Homo sapiens: one gene and its partners. The protein of the gene in region 4 interacts with the protein of the main gene of each other region in a pairwise test. Each region holds a gene or a part of one and is shown on either strand. Other genes may lie near its edges. The genes, in order: MAPK1IP1L, PRR19, KDR and PDCD6.

The links.
Region 1: the proteins of PDCD6 (region 4) and MAPK1IP1L interact in a two-hybrid assay, tested with the Homo sapiens proteins (one large-scale study listed by BioGRID and IntAct).
Region 2: the proteins of PDCD6 (region 4) and PRR19 interact in binary tests that used the Homo sapiens proteins (3 or more experiments, as listed by UniProt).
Region 3: the proteins of PDCD6 (region 4) and KDR interact in binary tests that used the Homo sapiens proteins (3 or more experiments, as listed by UniProt).

The regions. Positions count from the first base shown.
Region 1 is NC_000014.9:55,058,069-55,061,858, forward strand, and holds part of MAPK1IP1L (MAPK-interacting and spindle-stabilizing protein-like), read left to right. Parts: intron 1-3,086; exon of another isoform or gene 3,087-3,103; coding exon of another isoform or gene 3,104-3,105; intron 3,106-3,611; coding exon of another isoform or gene 3,612-3,615; coding exon 3,616-3,633; intron 3,634-3,790.
Region 2 is NC_000019.10:42,304,879-42,308,259, forward strand, and holds part of PRR19 (proline-rich protein 19), read left to right. Parts: intron 1-1,978; exon of another isoform or gene 1,979-2,045; coding exon of another isoform or gene 2,046-2,195; intron 2,196-3,381. UniProt on the Homo sapiens protein: Promotes meiotic crossing over formation through its interaction with CNTD1 by participating in the crossover differentiation step of crossover-specific recombination intermediates.
Region 3 is NC_000004.12:55,108,502-55,112,291, reverse strand, and holds part of KDR (vascular endothelial growth factor receptor 2 precursor), read left to right. Parts: intron 1-1,523; coding exon 1,524-1,638; intron 1,639-1,725; coding exon 1,726-1,889; intron 1,890-3,790. UniProt on the Homo sapiens protein: Tyrosine-protein kinase that acts as a cell-surface receptor for VEGFA, VEGFC and VEGFD. Plays an essential role in the regulation of angiogenesis, vascular development, vascular permeability, and embryonic hematopoiesis.
Region 4 is NC_000005.10:277,892-281,681, forward strand, and holds part of PDCD6 (programmed cell death protein 6), read left to right. Parts: intron 1-3,790. UniProt on the Homo sapiens protein: Calcium sensor that plays a key role in processes such as endoplasmic reticulum (ER)-Golgi vesicular transport, endosomal biogenesis or membrane repair.

The DNA of each region.
Region 1 (3,790 bases), on a different chromosome or scaffold from region 4:
GAACCAGCCCTGAACTGGACGCCATCCCAGCACAGGGTGCTCTCACCTACACCCACGCTCACAGACTGGGCCGCGTAGACACATCCATTCATGTGCATCTTTGGGATATGGGAGGAAACTGGAGTACTTGGAGAAGACCCATAAAGATGGGAGAATGAGCCAGCTTCACACAGACAGTGACCTCAGCTGAGACTTTTTGTTTTTTCTTCTCATCAACATTATAACAAAACAAAGTTGAATGAAACGTCTTTCGAGGACCTGCTATAGACTAAAATTTTAAAACCCTGTCCCATATATGAACGAACAATTAGAAAATACAGTAGAAGAAAAGAGCCTATTTACAACCACAGGGAAAAGTTTAACAGAAATCCCTTAAAAGAAATGTATATAGGAGATCTGATCAAGAAAATAAACTACATGAAAAGGACAGGAACTAAACAGTCCTCTGTGTCTGCATTTGCGGGTAGAAAATATTCAGGGAGCCGGGTGCGGTGGCTCATGCCTGTAATCCCAGCACTTTGGGAGGCTGAGGCGGGCGGATCACGTGAGGCCAGGAGTTCAAGAGCAGCCTGGCCAACGTGGTGAAACCCTGTCTCTATTAAAAATACAAAAAATTAGCCGGGCATGGCGGCGCTTGCCTATAATCCCAGTTACTCAGGAGGCTGAGGCAGGAGAATCTCTTGAACCCAGGAGATGGAGGTTGCAGTGAGCTGACATCATGCTATTGCACTCTAGCCTGGGCAACAGAGTGAGACCCTGTCTCAAAAAAAAAAAAATACTTGGGGGAAACAATAAAAATAACCATAGAAAATATAAGTTAATATAATTATATAGTATTCACACTTTTAAGTATTATAAATAATATAGAGATGATTTATACGGGAAGATGTGCATAGGTTATATGCAAATACTACACCATTTTATATCAGGTACTTGAGCATCCTGGGATTTGAGTATCTATGGGGGTCCTAGAACCAATCTCCCTCAGGTACCGAGGGACTATACTATACCTTGTTCTTGAACGAGATGATTTGACATTTTAAATAGATGTTCCCCTAGATTAATCTGTAAATATAATACATTTCCAACCAGAATGCTAACACATTAATTTTTTTTTTTAACGATCTGGAAAAAATAAAAATACATAGGAAAATCTGAAAAAAAAAAAAAAAAAAAAGACAGTAGGGTGACTCACATTAATGTTTATTTAAAATATATTGTAAAGCTTCTGTAATTAAAATGGAATGGTACAGTTGCAGACCAGTAGAAAAGAATAAAGTCAGCTGGGCACAGTATCTCACGCCTGTAATCCCAAGACTTTGGGAGGCCGAGGCAGGCAGATCACTTGAGCTCCGGAGTTCAAGACCAGCCTGGGCAACATGGTGAAACTCCATCTCTACAAAAAAACTAGCTGGGCAGGATCGATTGAGCCCAGAAGGTCGAGTCTGCAGTGAGCTTATGATGGTGCCACTGCACTCTGGCCAGGGAACAAAGCAAGACTGTTTCAAAAAGAAAAGAATAAAGTCCACAATATCTGTGGGAAATGAAGGAGGCTCTATAGCCTGCTTGTTAAGAGCCTAAGTTCTGGAGTCATACTGGGTTTGAACTGCTTCTCTCCTTGTCATTAGCTCTGGGACCTTAAACAAGTTAACTTGCCAAGCTTCCTCTTCTCCAGCTGTAAACTGGGGGTGAAAATAAAATTTGTATCTGGGTTCTGGAGCTACCAAGTGAGGTGGTGCACAGTACACCACCATGTTCCATGTTTCATGGTAAATATTGGATAGATGCTAGTTATAAATGGCAGCAGTATAGTGTAGTAAAGGTAGCTTGTCCAATTAGCTGAGAAAAGATAGATAGTTGATAATTATTGTTTGGAAGAATTTAAAGGTTTTAAACAAGAAGTTAAACCATAAAAATACTATATGAAAGCAAGGCAGAGTAGGGAAGGCCTTTGTAAATATATCACAAAATCCAGAAGCCACGTATAGGAAAACATTGATAGATTTGATGACATGAAATTTAAAACTTTTGTATAACCAAAATATGCCCTTTAAGAGATCTACAGATAAAAGGAATTTTGGAGAAATTTTTTTTTTTTTTTTTTTTTTTTTTTTTTTTTTTGATATGGAGTAGCCCTCCGTTGCCCAGGCTGGAGTGCAGTGGCGCAATCTCGGCTCACTGCAAGCTCCGCCTCCCAGGTTCATGCCATTCTCCTGCCTCAGCCTCCCAAGTAGCTGGGACTACAGGCACCCGCCACCACACTGGGCTAATCGTTTTTTTGTATTTTTAGTAGAGACGGGGTTTCACCGTGTTAGCCAGGATGGTCTCGATCTCTTGACCTCGTGATCCGCCTGCCTCGGCCTCCCAAAGTGCTGGGATTATAGGCGTGAGCCACTGCACCCGGCCAAAAAATTTTAATCTCATATATGAAAGCTAGTCTGCTTAGTATCTTACAAAGCAGTGAGAGAAAAAGATGTGCTACTGAGTAATAAAATGATCAAAGGCAAAGAGTACCTACAGTCTTTTATTTATATAAAGTCAAAGAACAAGCAAAATTAAGTCAAAAATTGACTGCCATGAGGCAAGGTAGTTGATTGGAAAAGAGCATGAGTAAACTTTCTGGAGTGAGAAATGTTCTGTATCTTGGGGTGGTTATAGGGGCGTATACAATTATCAGAGCTTGTTAATCTGAACACTTAAGATCTCTGCATTTTGTTGAGTGCTAATTACACTTCAATTTAAAAATTGGTAAAAGTACTCCAGGACATCAATAAATTTAAATTTGGGAGTACACACAGTGGCTCATGGCTATAATCCCAATACTTTGGGAGGCTGAGGCAGGAGGGTCCTTTGATCCCAGGAGTTTGAGACCGGGTCTGGGCAACATAGTGAGACACCTGTCTCTGCAATAAATTTTTAAAATTTTAAGAAATTTGCTGGGCATGATGGCACACACCTGTAGTACCGGCTATTAGGGAGACTGAGGCAAGAAGATGACTTGAGCCCAGGAGGTCAAGATTGCAGTGAGCTGTGATCTCTCTCGCCACTGCACTCCAGCCTGGGTGACAGAATGAGACCCTGTCTCCAAAAAAAAGACGAGGAAATGTAAGTTAAAATAAGACGCTAATTTTTAATATCTATTGTCATTATAAACAATAAATTTAATAATATCCAGTGGTAAAAGGAGTTAGAGAAATGAGTGTAAATTGGCATGGACTTTTCAAATGGATTTTAGATAAATTTATCTGTTGACTCTAAATTCCATGTCCAGTGCTTTTTCCTGGTGTTAGATTCTCACACACAAACAAAGAAGTGTTGAGAGATGTTCACTGTATCATACTTAAAACAACTTATACTGCTACAAAAAGAAGGTAAATTAAATTGCAAATCATTTTTGTATGATGTGCAGCCATTAAAAGGGATGAAGTTAATAGAGCTGTATGAACTATTATGGAAAACTTTCCTATGTAAAGAAAAACACATTACATAAATAAGATTCCGCTTAAGTAATAATAATGTATGCATAGAAAGTTCCTTAAGGAATATTTAAGAAATGGTGAACACTGATTTTGAAATTTTTCTTTCTTCCTTCATTTCTTTTCTTTTTTTAGGAAAATGTCTGATGAATTTTCGGTAAGTTGATCAGTTTATCTGTGATAAGTTTTTCATCTCTTAAGAAAAACAACATGGTCCTAACTGGGCTACGTAAATCTTTTCACTTAAAAGAGATGCTTTAACCAGGCATGGTGGTGTGCACCTGTAGTCCTAGCTACTTGGGAGGATCCCTTGA
Region 2 (3,381 bases), on a different chromosome or scaffold from region 4:
GTTGGGTGACAGAGTGAGTCCCTGTCTCCAAAAAAGAAGTCATAATCAGCTAGGCACGGTGGCTCACTCCTATAATCCCAGCACTTTGGGAGGCTGAGGTGGGCAGATCACTTGGCGTCAGGAGTTCAAGACCAGTCTGACCAACATAGCAAAACCCCATCTCTATTAAAAAATACAAAGATTAGCTGGGCAAGGTGGTCTGCGCCTGTAGTCCCAGCTACCTGGGAGGCTGAGGCAGGAGAATCGCTTGAACCCGGGAGGTGGAGGTTGCAGTGAGTTCAGACTGTGCCACTGCACTCCAGCCTCAGTGACAGATTTAAATTCCATCTCAAAAAGAAAAGGAAAGAAAAGAAAAGAAAAGAAAAAAGTCTTAATTATGCCTTCAAGTCAGTGATATAAGAGAGAATTTTTTTTTTTTTTGATAGAGTCTCGCTCTGTCGCCTAGGCTGGACTGCAATGGCGCGATCTCGGCTCACTGCAACCTCTGCCTCCCAGGTTCAAGCGATTCTCCTGCCTCAGCCTCCTGAGTAGCTGGGACTACAGGCGTGTGCCACCACGCCCGGCTAATTTTTTGTATTTTTAATAGAGAAGAGGTTTCACTGTGTTAGCCAGGATGGTCTCGATCTCCTGACCTCGTGATCTACCTGCCTTGGCCTCCCAAAGTGCTGGGATTACAGGCGTGAGCCACCATACCCAACCGAGAAAAAAATTTTTAAAAATAAAGTCTTAGAGGATAAGTTGGAGCAGTTCCTGAAGCAAAGCTTAGTGAGAAACAAAGCTTCCAGGCATTCTTCATTCACCAGGCCCATTTCAAGTTAGACATATTGGTCTAGTTTATCCTTCTAGCAACCAAATGAGGAAGGTAGTTTTATTACCAACCCAATTTTACAGGTCAGAAAACTAAGTCTGACCAGTTACAAACATTTCCAAGGTCACACAGCCCAGTTGTGCCATTTTGGGCATTTAAACCAAGCCTAGCTATGAATCACAACACTACACTAACTTTTTTTTGAGATGGAGTCTTTCTCTGTCACCCAGGCTGGAATGCAGTGGTGTGATCTCGGCTCACTGCATCCTCCACTTCCCAGGTTCAAGCAATTCTCCTGCCCCAGCCTGCTGAGTCGCTGAATATACAGTCGTGAGCCAATGCATGTGGCCTAATTTTTGTTCTTTTACAGGGTCTTGCCGTCTCCCTCAGGCGGGCGTGATCATGGCTCACTGCTGCCTCCACCTCCTAGGCTTAAGTGATCCTCCTGCATCAGCCTCCCAAGTAGCTGGGCCCACAGGCAAGAGCCACTGCGCCCAGCTTATTTATTTATTTAGAGACGGAGTCTCGCTCTGTCGCCCAGGCTGAAATGCATCTCGGCTCACTGCAAGCTCCGCCTCCCGGGTTCACGCCATTCTCCTGCCTCAGCCTCCCGAGTAGTTAGGACTACAGGCGCCCGCCACCACGCCCGGCTAATTTTTTGTATTTTTAGTAGAGACGGGGTTTCACCGTGTTAGCCAGGATGGTCTTGATCTCCTGACCTCGTGATCCGCCCACCTCGGCCTCCCAAAGTGCTGGGATTACAGGCGTGAGCCACCACGCCCAAAGCTAATTTATTTTTTGTAGTCAGGGTCTCCCTATGTTGTCCAGGGTGGTCTTGAACTCTTGGGCTCAAGCCAGCCTCCTGCCTCTGCCTCCCAAAGTGCTGGGATTACAGACGTGAGCCACCACGCCCGGCCAACTGTATAAGTTTTCTAGGGATTATGTCTGTGGCTGCTTGGGGGACAGCTGTGCATGGGGGCTACCATGACCCTTCTTCCCTTTGGCACGCCTGGTCTCAACTAGCCCTCGAAAGACCGCTGATAGCTATCTGAACCAATCAGCATTCAGGAAGGGGGCGGACCTAGTGAACCTCACAGCCAATTGAGGGCTGGGAGGTGCTGAGACCAAGAAAGGGAGATTTCTGAAATTGAGGCTGGGAGGGGAGGGGCTATAACCGGCGCTTCCCTGGCACGCGCCGCTAGGTTTCCGTCCTCTCAGAGCCACGAAGCCAAAGGGCATGGAAAGGGCACGCGCATGCGTGTGGGGGAGCCCGAGGCCCGGAACAGCGCCAGGTGACTTCGAGAGCTGGGGTCACCGCGGAAAAGAAGCCATTGCGCCCCACAGCTACGTGAAGTGGGAAGGGCCGGGGTTCGTTGGGGCGAGAGAGGTGCCCTTCCCACACCCTGCTCCTGCCAACCGTACCCCACTCCCTTCACTCTGCCCACCCTGCCCTACCGCGGCTGGCCACCATGCTTCCTCTCCTACCCTAGGCCCTTCCTTTGTGATCAGGCCCTGTCCCTGATCGCGCCTCTGTCTCCCTTCCTGTTCTCTTGAGGTTTTCTCAGGCTTTCCAGACTTCTCTTGCTGCTCTCCCTCTCCTGCTTCTCTTTCTCTACTATCTCTTTCCACTTTCTGCATTCCCCTGTACCTCGTCTACCCCTGGATTTCTCCGTCCAGAATCACTTTCTGGTCCCCCAAATCCCTCCAATCTCATGACCCCTTCACCACCCTCCATCTTTTGTTGTTGTTGTTGTTGTTGTTGTTGTTGAGACAGAGTCTCGTTGTGTCCCCCAGGCTGGAGTGCAGTGGCGCGATCTCGGCTCACTGCAACCTCCGCCTCCCGATTTCAAGCGATTCTCCTGCCTCAGCCTCTTTGAGTAGGTGAGATTACAGTCATTCACCACCACGCCGGCTAATTTTTGTATTTTTAGTAGAGGCGAGGTTTCACATGTTGCCCAGGCTGGTCTCGAACTCCTGACCTCAAATGATCTACCCACCTCGGCCTCCCAAAGTGCTGGGACTACAGGCGTGAGCCACTGCGCCTGGCCCCCACCCTCCATCTTTTTTTTTTTTTTTTTTTTTTTTTTTTGAGATGGAGTCTCGCTCGGTCATCCAGGCTGGAGTGCAGTGGCGCGATCTCGGCCCACTGCAAGCTCCGCCTCCTGGGTTCACGCCATTCTCCTGCCTCAGCCTCCCGAGTAGCTGGGACTACAGGCGCCCGCCACCGCGCCCGGCTAATTTTTGGTATTTTTAGTAGAGATGGGGTTTCACCGTGTTAGCCAGGATGGTCTCCATCTCCTGACCTGGTGATCCGCCCGCCTCGGCCTCCCAAAGTGCTGGGATTACAGGTGTGAGTCACCGCGCCCGGCTCACCCTCCATCTTTTAACTGTTTCCCCATGTCCCTGTTCCTAATAGCCTCTCTCTGTTTCCTGGCTTATCTTCCCATTAGCTGTGACTCCTTCGACTTCATCTTACCCCTGTGATTCCTTATCTGACCAAACCTTTTCCAATCTCTCTCTGCTCACTTATTTTCTCTCATCTTCTCTCTCTCTTTTAAGAGACAAGGTCTCAC
Region 3 (3,790 bases), on a different chromosome or scaffold from region 4:
TCCTTGTCTTCACGTTGAGTAGGCTGAGGAAAAGGGGGAAGAGGAGGGGGTGGTTTTGCTGTCTCAGGGGTGGCAGAGGTGGAAGAAAATCTGCTTATAAGTGGACTCATGTAGTTCAAGTTTGTGTTATTTAAGGGTCAACTGTAATTGAACTGGAATTAAATTGAACTGGCCTTGAGAAAATCACCTTAATTTTTTGTTTATTCTCTTTCATTTACATAAATGTCTGAGTTTACATGGTAATTTGTGTGGCATCCTACTTATAAGCCTTGGAAAGGATTTTGGAGTTTATATTATGAGAATGCATCAATACAGTGAAATTTTAAAAATACCTTAGATAATGCTATTTATTAGAGTTGTAATCATAAAAGTGGCAACAACTATAACAAGTATGATTTAGTGAGCACTTACTTTATTAGCTCATCTCATCTTTGAAGCTGAGATTGGAACTCAAGTTCCTGACTACAAAGCTATGCTCTTGACCTCTAGGTCACGTGGCATCCCTAGCAAGAACTTGAAAATTTCTTCTGAATGAACAAAATAGAAATCACTAAGTGTCCTAAATTTATTTAAATTATTTCACTTGCCAAGATGCACTTGTCAAAATACACAGAGAGAGATGTGCTCTGGCTTATGTTTTTATAGAATTACTTTTGTTTTCCAGAATACTTCAGGGAAATAGGGGCAGAAATAAGGAGGTCAGTTGGGAGGCTAATTGCAGTTATCCAAGTGAGAGTTGAGGGGTGGCTTAGACAAGGGTAGTTGAGGTGGAGGTAGTGAGAGGTGATCTGCTTCTGGATATATTTTGAAGGTAGAGTCAACAGGGTCCGCTGATCAATTCATTGGTTGTGGAGTATAAGAGAAAAAGAGTGGAAGATGACTCGAGCGTTAGCATGAGCAACTGAGTAAATGATGGTGTTATTTACTGAGATGGCAAAGATCGAGAAGGCAGTGAGATTTAGGGAAACAGTGTTAGATATGTTTATCTGGAGATGCCTGTTAAACATCCAAGTGGAGATATTTAACATATCAACCCGGAACCCAGAGGAGTCAGGGCAGAAGATAACACATTTAGGAGGTACGTGAATGATACTTTAAACCTGAGGCTAGAGGAAGGTGTAAATAAAGAGGAGGTCTGAGGACTGAGTCCTGGGGCCTCATGGTGGAAGAGGTGTGTGGAGGCTGTCATGGGAGCAGAGGAGAAGGAGCACCCAAGCATCCCTGGGGGACTTAGAGAAAGCTGCACAGAGGAGCAAGTGTTTGAGTTGAGACTTGAGCAATCACTAGGCTTGTGGGAGTGCACTAGCGGGGAGAGAAAAGCAAATGCAAACACAGGAGGTGTGGGAGAAACACGGGAGGTGTGGGAGAAGCTGAAAAGTGACCCACTGAAAGATAGTACAGGAAATCTTGGAACTGCAGCTACTCAGACCCTCAAGGTCTTTGACGTTTCACTTGAAATGAAAAACTAAATCAAATGACCATTTACAGTAAGTTGACCTTTTTTTTTTTTTATTTTCTTCCAGAAAAACCTTTTGTTGCTTTTGGAAGTGGCATGGAATCTCTGGTGGAAGCCACGGTGGGGGAGCGTGTCAGAATCCCTGCGAAGTACCTTGGTTACCCACCCCCAGAAATAAAATGGTAACTACTGGAAATAAATGCAAAGCATCATTTCGTGTGAGAGCAAATCCTTTGACTATACTAATTCCTGAGAATTTTTTTTCATAGGTATAAAAATGGAATACCCCTTGAGTCCAATCACACAATTAAAGCGGGGCATGTACTGACGATTATGGAAGTGAGTGAAAGAGACACAGGAAATTACACTGTCATCCTTACCAATCCCATTTCAAAGGAGAAGCAGAGCCATGTGGTCTCTCTGGTTGTGTATGGTGAGTCCATTCAATTTTCCTCTCTGCCCAAGATTTATTATGATACATTGTCTTCCAAATCAGCCAAACCACCGTTCCTCTGCCTCCTGCTGCTTCACTCATATCATGGCTGGGCCTGCGTACAAAAGTCATCTGGCGTGGTGAAGCTGAAGTGAAACGTAGGACCATGTGCTCTGGCCATGTTTGTTTAAGAGGCCGTGTAAATGAGCTTTGTGGTGGACAAATGCAAGATTAAAGTAGTGATACCCTCGATAGCTAAATGTTGTGAAATAAGAATGCCCACAGGGACAGTTGTCAAGCTAAGTTATACTACCATGTTCCCCTCTCATGGAATTGCCCACCTGGTACACAGATGTGTAAGACCCTTCTCCTTAGATTTTGTGCAAAGCTTCTAGTTTGATGTTGTAGTTGATGTATCAGAGATGTGCAGGCACGTTCCAACTCTGAAGGCTTTTGAAGTTGACACTGTTGGCTTGGTTGGGAGCTTTTCTTTTTTCCTTTTTGACAGGAGTTCAGGATCTGATTTTGAGTCTGTAAAGGAAAGATAGTAAGTTTTTGATGTAAAGATAATTTGAACTTTGTTTTCTGAAACTGAAAGGTACAAATAAGTGTTTGGAATGGAGTGGGGAGAAGGGTGCCATGGTCAAGTGAGTGTGAGAGGTGCTAAGGTGATGTGTAGATGTGTAACAGGTTTCTTTATTGCAGGACTTCGCAGAACCTTTTATATGCTAATGTATATTGGTATTCTCCAGGAGGAGAGACATAGAGTATTCAAGGTTTAACAAACCTATTTGACCAGAGCACCTTTTTTCCCCTGAGCAAATTCATTAATCTCTCACTCCAAACAGTTTGAGAAATGCTTCTCTGTTGTAATTCTTTGTTCCCCCTTCTGGTACGGCATATTAAAACTTCAGGATATTTTCCCATGACATTAAGGTGCTTCCCTACGTGTCCTGATACTCTTCTGTAGGCCGCTGAACTTGGCTTTATTATTTTTTTTCAGGGAATATTTTAAAGATAGGCTGGGTGCCGTGGTTTGCATCTGTAATCCCAGCACTTTGGGAGGCCGAGGCGGATGGATCACCTGAGGTCAGGAGTTCGAGACCAGCCTGGCCAACATGATGAAAACCCGTCTCTACTAAAAATATAAAAATTAGCCAGGCATGGTGGTGGGCACCTGTAATCCCAGCTACTTGGGAGGCTGAGGCAGGAGAATCACTTGAACCCAGGAGGTGGAGGTTGCAGATAGCCGAGATCGCACCATTGTACTCCAGCCTGGTGACAAGAGCAAAACTCCGTCTCAAAAAAAAAGTTAACAGGTTCCAAAAAGGTTGTTTAGAAGCAGCATAGGTGTAGGGGACTGGGGAGAGGAGAAACTGGAAAGTGTATAAGTAGGATGGGAGGAGGAAATGAACAGGAAATAAAAACAAAACACGGACAGCAAATAGCCCATTTCATCAGTTCATGAAGCCACTAAATATTTTATTCACTTTAGCAAATTCTCTGCTATATGAAATAAACATAAAAAAGAAGTCAAGTCTTCAAAGCATAATCTGAGGCTTTAGGTTGACAGTAATAAGGAAATAGTTTTGACTTTGGAGTCAAAAAAGAAAGAAAGGAAAAAGGGAGAGAAGAAAGAAGGAAGTGAGAGAAGGGAGAAGGAAGAAAGGGGAAGAGGGAAAGGGAGTGGAGAGGGAGGGAGGGAGGAAGAGGGAGAGAGAATGAAAAACTCAGATGATGGTGGCAGGAATGCATTCTCTAAAGATTTACACCTTCCTTTAACATGAGGTGGTTTACGTGTTTGGGTTCAGAAGTCAGAGTGTCTAGGTTTGTTCCAGGTTTTGCCGTTCGTTAACTGAGTGACCTTGGGCGAGTCATTTTTTTCTGTTTCATTTTTTTCT
Region 4 (3,790 bases):
GGGGCAGTGAGACTCCATCTCAAAAAAAAAAAAAAAAAAGAATAGAATAACCCTTGTTTAGGTGTTAACAAAATCCAGGCCAGACAAATCTAAACTTTAATCTCATACCCAGTTCCTAGATGAGTCCCTTCTCCAGCTCAGGTTCCGCCTAAGCCTCAGGGTTCCTTACTTGGTGGGCACCACCTGCTCCCTTCCCCACCTTTGTCCTCTTTTTCCTCTGCTGGCTCCTCCGGGGTTGGGTGTGTTCAGAGGCAGAGACAGGCTAAAGGTCTTTGGCTTTTAGGTTCTGTTGGTGGGTGAGTTCCAGATATAGCTTTCTCTTGTAGGATATTTCATTTATTTATCTATTAAAAATATTTATTTAGAACACACCATTCATGTGCCAGACCCTGTCCAGGCACTGGGGATAGGGTGATAAATGAGATCAACAAAAATACCTGCCCACATTAAGCTCCTGTTCTAGGGAAGACAGAAAGAAAATACACGTGTCCTTAGTATATTAGAAGATTCCAAGTACTGTAGAGAAAAATAAAGCAGGCTGGACTCGGTGGCTCATGCTTGTAATCCCAGCACTTTGGGAGGCTGAGGTGGGAGGATTACTTGAGCTCAGGAATTTGAGACCAGCCTGGGCAACATGGCAGATCCTGTCTCTCCCAAAAAAAAAAAAAAAATTTAGCTGGGTATGGTGGCGTGCATCTGTAGTCCCAGCCACTGGGGAGGCTGAGGAGGGAGAATTGCTTCAGCCTAGGAGGTGAAGGTTGCAGTAAACCGAGATCGTGCCATTGCACTCCAGCCTGGGTGACAGAGCCAGACCCTGTCTCAAATAAAACAAAAGGAAAGAAAGAAAATGAAAAAAAGAAAGAGATGGGGCAAGCAGGGGAGAGGGCTGGGGACACAGGGGAGGGTGCTGGGGATGCAGGGGAGGGTGCTGGGGACACAGGAGGGTGCTGGGGATGCGGGGGAGGGTGCTGGGGACACGGGAGGGGCTGGGGACATGGGAGGGGCTAGGGATGCAAGCTTTCCTGAGTTCCCACAGTTCTCTGCCCCTCTCCTGTCTCACGGGGTGTGGGCCACCTGTGGCTTGCGGTTGTTTCGCGCCAAGCTAATATCTTGTTCTTCCCAACAGAGAGGCCCGTTGAGGCTTCTCTGTCCTCCATGGGGAACAGCATTGGCCTAAACCTGCAGACACCATTGCAAAGGGAAGTCAGCTCAGGCAAACCCGCTGGTGAAGAAGAATTCCAGTGTGGGGACACAGAGACTGACATTTCTTGCCATGGGTGATTTAATTTTGGGCCTCAGTTTTTCATTCCCCCCTAAGAGTATGACGCAGCCGCATCCTTGCCAGGGCCGGAGGGAGGGTGGATGGACTTATAGGTGTTGCTTGTGGCTGGGTGACTTGCTTCTGCCAACGAGATTTTCACAGACACGGCACAAGCAGAAGCCTGGAATGTGTGGCACTGCCAGGCCTGCCCTCTTAGGCTCTTGATTTTCCCCACGAGATATGCGTGCCCCAGGGAACGGCGGCTCTGGCTGTGGAATGAGAGGCGTGTGGAGCAGGCATGGTTCCCACCCTCAGCCTAGAGTCAAGGCCAGACTAGATCAGCCTAAGCCCAGCCACGCCACGGGTGCAGCAGTGAAGAGCAAATGCCAACTGTCCATGACAGTGACTTTCAAAGGGGCGTGTCATGTGCCTCATCCCAGCAACAGGGAAGGCATTTCTCTATCAGTCAGTTGGTAAATGATTATTGACAATGTGTGGGAAGGTGGAGTTATTTGAGTAGATTTGGCCTCTATTCTCATGGAGCTTCCTTTCTAGAGGGGAAGGCAGATGATGGATGAATAAATATAAATGATTCTAATAGGTTGGTGCAGCAGTCATTAAAAGTAATGGCAAAAAAAAAAAAAAAAAAAAAAACGAGGAGCCGGTGCTGCAGTTCATTAATAGTAATGGCAAAAACTGCGATGACTTGTGCGCCAACCTAACCCAGTAATCACGGGTGTGCAAAATGTGGCGATGGGCAAGTTCCGAGTGCTAGGAGAGCATCTAGCTTCCCGGAGTCAGGAGACGGGGGTTGGCAACCTAACCAAGGTTAAGTCCAAGGGAGGGGGGTGGGCAGGGAGCGATATTTCAGTGGAGACTCCAAGGACGAATGGTATTTAGAGAGTAAACCCCGATAGAGAGGGTTTGTGTCTGGCACAGAGAAGAGCCTGTGCAAAAGCCAGCGGGGCGAGAGGACACCATGTGTTCATCCACCTGAGGGGCGACCAGCAGGCTGGAGCTCAGCGGGTTGAGAGGAGGATGCAGAGCCCGGGAAAGGCACCCTAGGCAGAGGGCACAGCAGGGCAAAGGCCTGGAGTCAGGCCTGAGCCTGTGTGGTTTGAGGAACGGATAGAGGCCTGTCCGGCAGGAAGGGAACAGCACAGGGGAGAGACCTTAGGCCAGAGCAGAGGGCAGGGCTGTGCTGGGCACTGTGGGCTGTGGATGGTGCTGGCATTTAAGAGGGGAGACCATAGACCAGGGCAGAGGGCAGGGCTGTGCCGGGCACTGTGGGCTGTGGATGGTGCTGGAATTTAAGAGGGGAGACCATAGACCGAAGTAGAGGGCAGGGCTGTGCTGGGCACTGTGGGCTGTGGATGGGAGCTGGCATTTAAGAGGGGAGACCATAAGCCAGGGCAGAGGGGTGGGGAGGGCTGGGCCAGGCACCAGAGTGGAGACCACAGGCCAGGGCAGAGGGCAGGGCTGTGAGGGCACTGTAGGCTGTGGATGGGAGCTGGCATTTAAGAGGGGAGTCCATAGACCAGGGCAGAGGGCAGGGCTGTGAGGGCACTGTAGGCTGTGGATGGGAGCTGGCATTTAAGAGGGGAGTCCATAGACCAGGGCAGAGGGCAGGGCCGTGCTGGGCACTTTGGGCTGTGGATGGGAGCTGGCATTTAAGAGGGGAGACCATAGACCAGGGTAGAGGGCAGGGCCGTGCTGGGCACTTTGGGCTGTGGATGGGAGCTGGCATTTATGCTCAAGTGATGGGAATATGTTAAAAGATTTTAAGGAGGGGAGTAACAGTTGGGATTAATGTGTATTCTGGGAATCTCAACAAAGTAAATTCATAGTTCGAATTTTCATAAGACTTCTGCACAGGCAGAGAGAAATAAGATCGCATCTACAGCTGTGTGGTGATTTTCTTTAAAAATACTACTAAGTTTTTAAACGTGATTTCAAATGGTGTGTTTCTGTTTCACATTGGACATAAGTAGATTGCAAGGCTAATGGAAAGTAGAAAAGTTAACTCATGAACATAAAAGAGACATCGATTTGAAAACAAAACATTTATTCATTTACTTCTGCTGCAGTTTTCTTGACTGCTGAATTTCGTAAGAAGGGATTGGTCAGGGAGGGTCTTGGGGCTGAAGACCTGGAGAGGAGCTGGTGCTATCGCTGTTCAAATCTGAAGGTGGTGGAGATGGAGCCTTGGGGAGGAGCCGGTGCTGCCTTTTAAGTCTATGAGAGTCGTTGAGCTGGAGGTCCAGGGAAGAGCTGGTGCTGCCACTGATGTCTTAGGTTGTGGAGCTGAAGACAGTGAAGGAGCTGGTTTGGCTGTTCTGTGAGGGTCGTGGAGCTGGAGATCCAGGTGGGAGAGGTGTTCTAGTTTGAGGGTCATGCAGATGGAGATCTGTGAGGAGCTGATGTTATTTTAATTGGTGGGTCGTAGAGCTGGAGACCAGGGAGGAACTGGTGTGGTTCTAGTTTGAGGGTTGTGGAGCTGGAGACACAGGGAGGAGCTGAGGTTCTAGT